Homo sapiens: one gene and its partner. The protein of the gene in region 2 interacts with the protein of the main gene of each other region in a pairwise test. Each region holds a gene or a part of one and is shown on either strand. Other genes may lie near its edges.

Evidence for each region. Proteins that work in one complex are often made in the same cells at the same time.
Region 1: the proteins of POLI (region 2) and ZBTB44 interact in binary tests that used the Homo sapiens proteins (3 or more experiments, as listed by UniProt).

Annotation. Positions count from the first base shown.
Region 1 is NC_000011.10:130,311,902-130,319,045, reverse strand, and holds the start of ZBTB44 (zinc finger and BTB domain-containing protein 44), read left to right. Parts: upstream 1-4,128; 5' UTR 4,129-4,671; exon of another isoform or gene 4,672-5,229; intron 5,230-7,144. UniProt on the Homo sapiens protein: May be involved in transcriptional regulation.
Region 2 is NC_000018.10:54,293,512-54,298,758, reverse strand, and holds the end of POLI (DNA polymerase iota isoform a (long)), read right to left. Parts: intron 5,111-5,247; coding exon 4,292-5,110; 3' UTR 525-4,291; downstream 1-524. UniProt on the Homo sapiens protein: Error-prone DNA polymerase specifically involved in DNA repair. Plays an important role in translesion synthesis, where the normal high-fidelity DNA polymerases cannot proceed and DNA synthesis stalls. Favors Hoogsteen base-pairing in the active site.

The DNA.
Region 1 (7,144 bases), on a different chromosome or scaffold from region 2:
GGACTTTATCCGGGGAGCAATAGGAAGCCATTGTTGGCTGACATCACTGCTATGCATTGCAACTCTGGCGACCATGTAGAGAATGAGGAAAAGGGAGAGTGCATTTGGGAAACCACGTGAGTGGTATTATAATTCTCCAGGCACAAGCTAGTATCATCTTATTTTAGGACGGTGGCAGTGGAGAGGGACACATTCAACAGGACTTGTTGATGGATTGGAATTGAGATACAGTAGTAAAGTAGCAAAGTCACCCTGCTTCACTGGGTGAATGGTAAAATGTGAACACTAGAAGAGGTATAAATTTTAGGGTAAGAGAGTGAGATTAATTTTTTATATATGTAGTTGTATAATCTAATCTAATAAGGAGGCAAGGTCGGGTAGAAAGGATTCATGCCTTAATGCTAATGCTTTTGGACTAAATAACTAAGTTTCCATTCAGTTATAATGGTCTTCCACAAGGAAGTGCCATCTTTTGCAGAATTTATTCCCCCAAAGAGCTCGTGGCTGAAATATAACTCCTGGAATTTGCCTGGAATTTGAATTCCTCAGAATCATCCACACCAAGTTAATAATTAAAGGTTCCTCATACTGTCTACATTTGTTTTTTTCACCTGTGTACAGGATTCTGATTTCACAAAATCCTCCCAGCAGTATTATTTAACCTAGTGTCAAAGAAAGGTGTGTATATTCCAGCAACCCAGAGGCAAGTCTCTACCAGCTCAAGAAGGAAAAAGGTGGGAGGCTGCAGAAGCCACAGAAACTGACCCTGCCCAGAGCCAAAGCAGACAAGAGGGCTCCTGCAAAGTTAATCTTCTTTGAGATTTTCTCACACCCTCTCCAAGCATCTAGCATTGAGCTCTGAAGGGCCTCACGGTCATTTGTTCGTTAATAAATTCTTCAGACCTGAGGTGGGGGTGGAGTGGAAGGATGATAAAATATTTAAATGTTAAATGAGAAAGAAAAGCAGGAAAGGGCTCAGGTATGGTAGCTTATGCCTGTAATCCCAGCACTTCAGGAGGATCACTTGAGCCCAAGTTCACATAGCAAGACCCATCTCTACAAAAAATTTTTAAAATTAGCCAGGCACAGTGGCGCACTTGTAGTCCTAGCTATTTGGAAAGCTGAGGCCAGAGGACGCTTGTGCCCAGGAGTTTGAGACTGTATTTAGCTGTGATTGCACCACTGCACTCTTGGACAACACAATGAGAGCCTGTCTCCAAAAAAAAATTTTTTAAGTGGAAAAGGCAGAGGAGACAAGGGAATAATCTAAGGGAAGAAAAGTTTTTAAATGATAAAAGCCATATATGACAAACCCGCAGCTAATATCACACTGAACAGGAAAACATTGAAAGCCTTTCCACTAAGATCTGGAACAAGACAAGGATACCCACTTTCACCACTCCTATTCAATATATTTCTGGAAGTCCTCACCTGAGCAATTAGGCAAGAGAAAGAAATAAAGGGCAACTGAATTGGAAAGGAAGAAGTCAAATTATCCTTGTTTGCAGATGACTTGTTCTTATATTTAGAAAAACCTAAAGACTCCATCTCTCAGAACTTTGATGAACGAATTCAGTTAAGTTGAAGGATACAAAAATCAATTGATTTTCTTTTCTTTTCTTTTTTTTTGGAGATGGAGTCTTGCTCTGTCGCCAGGCTGGAGTGGCACGATCTCGACTCACTGTAACCTCCACCCCCTGGGTTCAAGTGATTCCCCACCTCAGCCTCCCAAGTAGCTGGGACTACGGGCGCGTGCCACCATTCCCAGCTAACTTTTTTGTATTTTTAGTAGAGATGGGGTTTCACTATGTTGGCCAGGCTGGTCTTGAACTCCTGACCTCGTGATCTGCCTGCCTTGGACTCCCAAAGTGTTGGGATTACAGGCGTGAGCCACCACACCCAGCACAGTTGATTTTCTATATGCTAACAGCCATCAATCTGAAAAAGAAATCAAGAAAACAATCTCATTCACAATAGCTACAAAAAAGCAAAATAAAATACCTAGCAATAAATGTAAGCAAGGAAGTGAAAAATCTCTACCCGGAAAAGTGTACACATTGATGAAAGAAAATGAAGAGAACAAAAAAAAAAAAAAAAAAAAAAGGAAAGATATCTCACGCTCATGAATTGAAAGAATTAATATTGTTAAAATATCCACACTACCCAAAGCCACCTACAGGTACAGTACAATCCCTACCAAAATATCAATGACACTCATCACAGAACTAGAAAAAAAAATCCTAAAATTTGTATGGAACCACAAAAGACCCTGAAAAGCTAGGGCAATTCTGAGCAAAAATAACAAAGCTAGAGGCATTCCTCTACCTGACTTCAAGTTGTACTACAAAGGAAAGCAAATTTTTGTGTCAGTGTAGTAGTTGAGGAGCTGCCACCACAGCCCCTGGAGAAGCACTTAGAAAAGACTTGCCTCATGGTCTTTTATTGACTATCCTGTTAAAGGCACTAGGAGAGGTAGATAGGATTTGACTACTTCATTTCCACCCTGATTCTTGTCCAGTTGCTTACCACCTACATACATTCTCACACATTCCTCACCAGGGCCCCAGCTCATGCCCTTTCCTGAGCCCTGCTCTGTGGCCGCCAGTCCTCTCCCAGGTAAGCATTCCGCCTTCTTTCCCTTCCCCTCTTCAAAACTTAGTGCAAAAGTTTCTGGGCCTAGTTCGCATCTTTCTGATTTTTCTCATCTCTGAAATGGGAATAATAAGAATGATAGTGGGAATAATAATAGAAACCTGTGATAAAACCTGTGAATTACAGTTGCCGTAAGGATTAGATAACATTATACATGCTTGAAAACTTGTTGGAAACTGCGAAGGACTATAAAAACAGAAGTTGTTTTTATTGCCTTTATTCCTAAAGAAGATTGCAAGTGTCAGGGTGTTCAGGTGCTTGGCTGCTTGTCTCTCAGAGTGAATTAATGTGAGATGTTGCCAAGTGTTTCAAAAGGAAAATCCACTCTACTTCAGCGGGACGTCCACCCACCTTGCACAAAACCCTCTGGAAAGAAGTCTTTCGGTTTGCAAACTGGAGGCGTGGGAAAACAGAAAGCGCCCAAGGAGCACCTGCCCGCACCCCGCCCGCCCCCAGGCACCTGGGGCGCTGCCGCCTGCAGTCCCGGGAACCCCTATGACCTCCGGGGGCGGTGTGGAGAGCGCTCGCCCGCCTGGCCAGGGGAAGCCAAGACTTAGGGCCCTAGGAGTTAACTAGGTTGATTGATTTTGCAGTTGACCAAGAACTTCAAAACCCCCCGGGCGGTACCGGTTACTTCGGGGAGGCCCGCACACTTCCTCCGGGAAGGCCAGGAAGTAAGTGATGGTGCAGTAAAAATGACAGATTCACGGTTGTGGAAGAAGTAGGGTATATTTTTGGAGCAGCTCTAGCTGTCCCTGTGTTGGAAGAACGAGAGGGACCTGGGAGTCCGTTTCTCCACTCATCTCAAGAACCGCACGTCCTGCCAGGTCACCGAGGCAAGTGCTAGAACGGAAGAGAGCAAGCACTGCGAGGAGGCCCGAGGAGCCACGCAATCCAGACACCCGCCGCATGTCGCAGTCCGCCCAGGACGGGGGCGCGGGCTCACCTGTCTGCGGGGCGGCCCTTGGCAGGCCTGTTTCCATGGGTGAACAATGGGCACCTTACCAACTAACCTCCCTCGCCGAAGAGGGGCTGAAGTGTTTCTATTTCGACCTCCCTACAAAAACTACCCGAGAAAATAGGAGTTATGTTTTTAGTTCGAAGAAAAAAATAATGCTATAAATGTGACTCCTGCGGAGAAATGCTTCTCAGGTGTGAGAGGGGAACTGGGTAAGAGGACGGCTTAGAGGAAGGACAAATGGGACAGGGCTTATGGGGCATGTGAATGTAAATCGGCACATGTGCGCACATATGCAAAAATACAGTGTCAAGACTCACGGCCTTTCTGGGTCACGCAGGCTCCACCGTCTAAGGAGACGGAGTCACCAACAGTACAAGTCCCGACGGCCAAGAGGGCCCATTTTCTGCGCTTGCGCAATCATCACGTTTCCTTCCCCGCCCCGAGCCCCGCCCCCGAGCGCGCTCCGCCCCGCCCCCTTCTCCTCCCCTTCCCCAGCCAGGCCGCCGGCGCAGAGCATTGTGGGACACAAACAAAGTGCCCCCAAACAGGCTGGAGTGAGCGGAGCGGCAACGGCGGCGGCGCCGGCCGCACGCGCGCGGCGGCGGCTCCCTCCCAACCTCCCCCTCCCCTCCCCTCAGTCCCCTTCCCCTTCCCCACCCCGCCCCGCTGGGAACACGCGAGCCGTCGCCGCGCTCCCCAAACAACCGCCTGCCCTCGGCCAACCGTCCCCAACGGTCGCCAGCGCGCGGCTCCCGGGCCCCCTCGCTCCTCCCCTCTGGCCCCTCCGAGCGCTGGGGGTGCTTCCCTCCCCGCCTCCTCGCACTCCCACTCGCGGGCACGCCGGTGGCTGTGCCGCCATGCCCCACCACAGGCTGCTCACGGGCCTAGGCGCGGCGGCCCGAGATAGGGGCCCCTGAGCCTCCCGGGGGAGGAGAGAGGCAGCGAGCCGCGCTCCGCCCCCTCCCCCCGGGCCGCCGCCGCCGCCGCCTCGCCGCCCCAGCCTGGCGGGAGAAGGAGGAGGAGCAGCAGGCCTCCGGGCCCGGCGCCGCCGCCCGCAGGTAACGGGGAGGGGAGGGCGGGCTCCGGTCGCGCGGGGGACGGCCCCTGCACGCTGCCCGTGGCTGACACCGCGTGGCCCCCACCTGGCGCCGAAGGGAGCGGAGAGCCGGGTCTGTCAGCCTAGTCCGCGCCGGGAGACACCCCACGGGATCCCCTCGGTGGCATTTAATCCTTCTGGGAGGAGACCGGCCTTGGGCCCCGCGGTCCCGGAGCAGTTACCCCGACCTTCCAGGGAGCTGCCCGTCCTTTGCACGCCCATTTGCCCAACACCCTAACCCGGAGCGGCCGGAGTGTTGCCACCTCTCACCTGGTCGAACCCGGGAGGCTCAGACCTGTTTTTTTTCCTCCTTTCCCCTTCTGCTTTTTCTCTGGTACAGAAAGAAAAAGATGGCACTTCTTTAAAAAAATATATATATATATATATACACACACACAAACACACACACACATACACACACACACACACCTCTTTTCCTTTCCTTCCTGAGGATCACTCTGCATCTAGTCGTTTTATTGCTGGCCTAATCAGAAAAAGGGGTTACCTCGAGAAATGACAGGTACGTTAGAACTGATTAAAAGGAAATTGCGTCCATGTGAGTTCTATGAATCCAAGCAGAATTTACAATAAAACCCCGTAATTGTGTGCTTTTTTTTGGAACTTACAAAAATGAAGACAAAAACTTAATTTCTTTTTCAGCGTGTAAGTAGATAATCTCTTGAAGTCAGGAAGAAATTCTCCATAACTTCCACTTATTTTCTTAATGCTTTATTTGGAGATCGGCTGATACCGGAAGCAAGCTGCACGATTTTGATTTCCTTTTCTCTAGGTGTTCAGTTGGAATTCTTGGGTTTAAAAAATACTGTATAAATCTTCATTTCCCCCATTACTTCACTTGGACTGTCAGTGGATTAATAATAATTTTACCTAATGTAGTTTCCCCTTATCATAGAATGTGAATATAATGAACGTAGTCCTTTAGTTTTGTATTTTAGGATTATTAGTAATGTACTGATTAATTATGAAAACCAGATTATTCATTTTGTGCAGTACTGCTTGGCATTTTTGCATTTGTAATTATTTAATTCTCAGAACAACCTAATGATGCAGATATTATTACTTGAATTTTATAGAAGTGACAAACTTAGTGATACGAAGAATTACAACTTGCCTTAGGGCACACAACTAGTAAGATAGTTTAGATTTCAACCCAAATATAATTCCAGTATAGATGTACTTTCGTGTACTTTCTACCGTACTTCTCAATAGAAGTACAATTTTATTAACTTTGTTATGAAAAATTTTAGTCGTATAGAGGTTCGTTCTATACAATTGTGATCGGTTATTCATGCAATGAATAAAAATGCTAATCAATGCAATGAATAACCAACTCAGTGATTAGCATTTTTGCCATATTGTTTCCTGTCTTTCTCTGTATGTGTGTAATTATTTGAAAGTAAGCTGCAAACACTGTAATCCTCAAATATTTCGGCATGTGTTTCCTAAAAATAGGGACATTCTCCTACTAACCCCAGTATCATTATTAATGCCTATCAAAATTAACAACTCCATCTTCAAAATTCCTCAGTTGTTCCAAAGTGTCTTTGAGGGTTCTGCCCCCAGTTGTAGTCAGTCAAGATTCATGCATTGATTGCATTTGGTGATTAAGTCTTTAGTCATTTTGTAAAATGAAGAGTATCCATCCCCTCTTCTTTTTGCAGGGGAAATTAAATAGGATGAATATTCCCTCCCTTCTTTTTTTCTGACACGTAATTGACCAAACCAGTTGTCTTGTAAAATATACCCACATTCTGGATTTGTGCCCTCCTAATGTCATTTCGTTTATTCCTCTTTCTCCCTGAATTTCCTATTAACTGGAAGTTAGGTGTAAAGGAAGGCTTAATTAGCTTAAAGTAAAACTTCCTTTGGCAAGAATATTTAATAGGTGATGCTGTGTACCTCCTGTTGCATAATATAGGAGGCACACAATGTCAGATTCCCACACTATTAATGATGCTAAATGTAACCATTTGATTAAAGTGCTGACTACTGATCTGTTGTAAAGGTGTGGTTTGCCAGTTTGTGATTAATATGTAATCTTGGGGTAAAACTTGGACACTAAGCAAATACCCAGTTTCTGACAATCTTTTGCTTAGTGGTTTTTAGCACCCATGATGACTTTTGCTTAAATCAGTTATTGGAGGTTCTCTGTAAGGAAGAGATTTCCTTCATTAAGTGCAGGTAAACTATTGTTCTTCCCCAAAATGCAAATTAAATGTTAAATTTAATCTCTTTACTTTTCAATATTCATAGTAAAGAGCTGGAGAAATAGCCACCCCCAATGATGTTTTTTGGGGCAGGGGTGAATGATACCACTTCAGACTCTCATGGGTTTTAATTTATTCCTTGTTTTATAACCAGTTACAGTCGTCTTTCTTTTTAATGACCAAATTGTCCCAGATTTGGTCAGTAGG
Region 2 (5,247 bases):
AAATTAGCTGGGTGTGGTGGTAGGTGCCTGTAATCCCAGCTACTCGAGGCTGAGGCAGGAGAATCACTTGAACCCAGGAGATGGAGGTTGCAGTGAGTCAAGATCACACCTTTGCACTCCAACCTGGGCGACAGAGCGAGACCCCATCTCAAAAAAAAAAAAAAAAAAAAGATTCTGTAGTATAATTGGTCTGGTCTTCGTTCAGGGTTCCTGGACACCAAGCTCCTAAAACCCATGGAATTTCCTAAACAACAGAAGTGCCTTCATTATTCATGGTAAGCCCTGACACTGTATGCTAATGATGTGACCCACAGTGGGCCCTAGACAGCTAATGCTAAAAAGATGATTTAGGATGGAGGTAGCTCACTTCAAAAAAACAACCATGATTAGGGTGTTGAGACTTTGAGCCAGCCTGATGTCCAGACAGAGGAGGGAAACTGGAGATTAAGTTCAAGCACACAGTAAAGGTTTTAATAAATCATGCCTACGTAATGAAACCCCAAAGAAAACTCTGGACTTCTTGATTACTTGATATGTTTTATTTCTTGACTTGGACAGTTACATAGTTGTTACAATTACTCATTAACATGTTCATTTATGTTTATGTACCTTTCTATATACAGATTTTAAAATAGAAGTTTTTTTAATATTGAAAACAATCCAGATTTGATGGAAGACACAAATCTGCAGATTCATAATGAACCTAAATCCATGATAAATCTATAGCTAGACATATAATAAAAACTGCGTATCTCCAAAGTAAAAGATATTATCTTAGAACAGCTCAAGAGATGTCAGTTCTAAATCTACAGCTCTAAGGACATAATTTCAGAAGGTATAAAGAATTCTACCTAGAAGGAACATCTGACACACAAGAAAAAAGGTAAGCCCCCACCATGTCCCATCAAAAAAATAAACATTGACTATATAAAATACTAATAATATCCAATTTGGAGATTTAATAAAGAACTTGTGGAATTTAATTAGAATTAATGTTATTTCAATACCTTTGTGTTGTTTGGAAAGAGGGTAGCATTTTTAGATGTTTAAGGATAATCAAAAGGACTTGTAACATTCACATTCCAAATCAGTAAAGGGAAAATATATGATTAAATAGAAAACCCAACTGATCCCAAAAGATAGGAGGAGAGATAAAGGTGGGAAAGAAGCACAACATAGAAAAAGAAATATATTAAAAAATAAGATGGCAAAAAATAAATCCAAATAAATTTGTACTTTGGCACTACAGTGGAATAGATACTTTTTAGAGTTCTCCTAGTACAAAACACTAGATCTTGGAGAAAAGAGACCTCTTAATTCATTGCTGGTTTGTACCATATAAGGGAAATCTCCAGGCCTACACTCAAGACAGAAACCCCCTCTACACTATACACTCAAGAGAGAAACAGAAAAAATAAAAATAAAAATACCCTCTACATTCAAGACAGAAACAGGAAAAAAAAAAAACAACAACAAACTCGAGCTGAAACAAAAGCAAGAAAGCAGCAGAAAGCATCAAGCAAGAAGCAAGCTTGAAAGATGGGGTTTATCCCTGGAGGCAGATAGCTAACAGCATCTGCCTGTTAGTTTGGAATTGACCTGCAGAGACAAAACCTTCGGCTAGTAGTAAGGGTCAGGGAGCTTACACTTAAGACAAGGCATTCAATCAGGATCCACAAAGGTGAATAGAGTATGCCAAGGAGTTTGTACCACCTCACCCAGAGAAGCAACGAACTCAAATCATACTGAAGGAAAACATACACAATTTAGGCCCTCTGTCTTCTCGCAGATTAACACATACTCAAGGAAATAAGTCACAATGATATGCAATAATAACCTTAAATGTAGACTTATAAAGACTTAAAATATTGAAATTATCAAAAATATCATATATTTGACTTTTAAAAATTAGAAACAGACTTACAAGGGACTGTAATGAGTAAACGGGAAGTTAAAAAGAATCAAATGAAAAATATATTTATTGAAATTAAAACCATCATTGTTTTAAATAGCAGGTGAGATGCTACTGAAAAATGAACTAGTAAACAGAAAGATAGAGCTGATGAAATTACCCAAAATGCAGTAAAGAGAAACAAGAGGATGAAAAATATGAGAAATTAAGAGACATGAAGGATACAGTAAGAAAGTCTATCATTTGTATACAGTCCTAGAATAGAGAAGAAATATTTGAAGAGCTAGTGGTTGAGAATTTTACAGAACATGAATTAAAAGATACAGGAAGAAGCCAGTATATACTAAGAATAAAAATAAATTCGCACTTCCAAATAATACAGTAAACCTGCAAAGCACCAAAGAAAAAAGAGATAATCTTAAAAACAGAGAAAAAAGATCCCATAAAAAAGTTGATTCTGAGGCCCAAAGATGTTGAGACTAACTTAAAACCACAAAATAAGTAGCGTAACTGTGACATAGCCCGTACATTCTCAATCTATGAAATGTATTTTTAACTATTTTGCTTTCTCTTTTTAAGCTGGCCAAAACCATTTACTTTGTTTTCTTAGCCATTTTTTCTTAAGCCCCTTCTAGCTGTCCAAGGTCCTGAAATCATTACAAGGACTATAAAATGTTTTAATGATTTACAAAAAGTTATATACCCTTTTCATAAGTTTAATTACCTTACTGGAATACTCATGTAAAAAATACTATGTTCCTTGATTCAGAGTACTAAATATTTGCATGGTGAACAATTTCTGATGTTCTTGCTTCAAGTTACTGTTCCTGATAACCTCAAACTACCTATTTACAATCCTTCGTGTTAGCATATTTTCAAATTCCAAGGAATCCAAAACTAAGTTAAAATTTCAGAGCTGGGGCCAGGAGCAATGGCTCACACCTGTAATCCCAGCACTTTGGGAGGCCAAGGTGGAGGATCACCTGAGACCAGGAGTTCGAGACCAGCCTGGCCAATATGGTGAAATGTCATCTCTACTAAAAATACAAAAATTTGCTGGGTGTGGTAGGGCATGCGTGTAATCCCAGCTACTCAGGAGGCTGAGGCAGGAGAATTGCTTGAACCTGGGAGGCGGAGGTTGTAGTGAGCTGGGATTGCGCCACTGTACTCCACCCTGGGCGACAGAGTGAGACTCTGTCTCCAAAACAAAAAAAGAAAGAAAAGAAAATTTCAGACCTAGAAGAAAGTATTTTTAAGCTACTCTTTGGTTCATATTTGTGTACTTTATTTTTAAAGTCTCTTCTTTAGATTATATGTGCAAAAATTATAAACTTGAGACCAGGATACTCCCATATTGGTGCTGAGGGATACTTTAGTATATTCTATAAACATCCTCTATGTCTTGCAAATTATATAATACATTCTCAATCTTATATCCAATTTTTAGTTTAGCAGGCAAAAGAGGAAGGCAATAACAATGGGAGAAAGAGGACATCCACCAATTTAGTAATGGTCTATATTTGTGGTTGTTATGACAACCTAATATCATCTCCAAATGTAGGGAAGATACAAAAACATCTCAGTGCTTTTAGGCCCTTCAAACTAGCTAGAAAGAAATGGACTTCTTCCATTATCCAGTATGCTTATAGGCCCATCACCTTGCCTTTCTGGTGTCCATCTTTCCCTTAATTTACTTGCACGGAGAGTTCCTTCTACCACTGTTCTCTATAACATATACCCTCCTCTCACTTTAACTCCCCACCCTGGCCCTAGCCAAACCATTCATTCATTCAATGTTTATTGAACGGCCTTTGTGTGCTGTGTATTGTGGTAGATTCTTGGTGTATGAAGAAGCATTAATTGAATATAAATTGCTTTGGTATTTTAAAAGTCAACATACTAAATGTAATGTAGTACTTTAGTCAAAACTATCTATATTTTTAATAGGTTAGTTGGCAGTAGGATTTGCTATTCAGCCTAAGAGGCTGAATTTGAGATATTCCACATTTCACAGGAAAAAAAAAAAAAAAATGTGTCCTTTACCATATCATTGCAACGATTTGGCTATTTTTTATATATAAACATATACATCTCCCCACCAATTCATGAAAAATATTCTATGTTGACCATGATATTCTTTTTATTGAAAAGTAATATAAAATGGCTTTAGACATAAAAGATAGTATTTTACATTATTTCTTCTGTTATATTTTTACGCTTTGTGCCAGAATTTACTTCTTGCAACTATTCTTGCTTTATCTGGAACAGTTTACTCCGTTATTGAATATCTATTAGTGTTTAATATAGAAGAGCTTAATAAACCGCTAATCCGAAAATAATGGTATTCCCTTGCTTTTCAGACCTTTTTGCTGAATATGCTTATTTATGTCCAATGTGGAAATCTGATCCTGCTCTCTTCCACTCTGCCAGCAGTTCCTTTTGTACTGCTTCTGGTAGTTCATAGAAAACTTGAGGATCAATGTCAGAAGGGAAAGTAATTTTCTCATCAACAGAATCTGGCTCTCTATTTTCTGTAAGTCCTTCATGAGAGTCTGTTGCTACTGTTTGCTTATGGCTATCTGTAGTGTGGTTTCTGGAGAAAAGTTGCTCACTCTGCAAGTTTGGAAATGAATGAAAAGCAGACACAGCAGGGTTTGAATTTGTAAAGTGGAATCCTTGAGGTTCTTTAGGTCCTTGACTTATTCGTTCATCTTTTAATCTATTATCTAAATAATATGAATAATCCTTTTGGCTAGACATGTAAGAAGAACTACTGCTATTAAAGCCTGATGTTCCCGGTTCACAAGGAGATACAGAGGATACCTGTTTGCTACTGGATAAATGATCTCTAGGATTTATGGGAATATCTTGCATTTGTTTTTTAGAAAAGAAAGATAATACTCCTCTAGAGGCATGTAATGGACAACTCACACTTCCTTTCCCTTGAAATTTTTCCCTAGATTTTCCAGAAAGGATTTCTTCTTGAATATCTACTGGAAGCTGCTTGAAGACTTCTTGGTCAACACCTTCAGGAAGTGAACAGAGTGGGAATTCATTAATGTCTTTTTCTTTAGAAAAATTTGTGGTATCTAGTGGAGACTCCCTAGTTCTTGTACTTTCAATTCTTCCACTTGGTAGGAAATCCCGGTTTGTTTCTTTGTCTTTGGGAAAATCTTCCATATGAGTGTCTTTCATTTTCTAGAACACAAGAATAACAGACTAATTTACATATCTGATATCTTTTAAATATCGCTGCTGCTGCTGTGTGCCTGTAGCTATTATCTGACATGTTTCTAACCTACTCAACAAATACAACTCTTTGTGGCCAGTTCCAA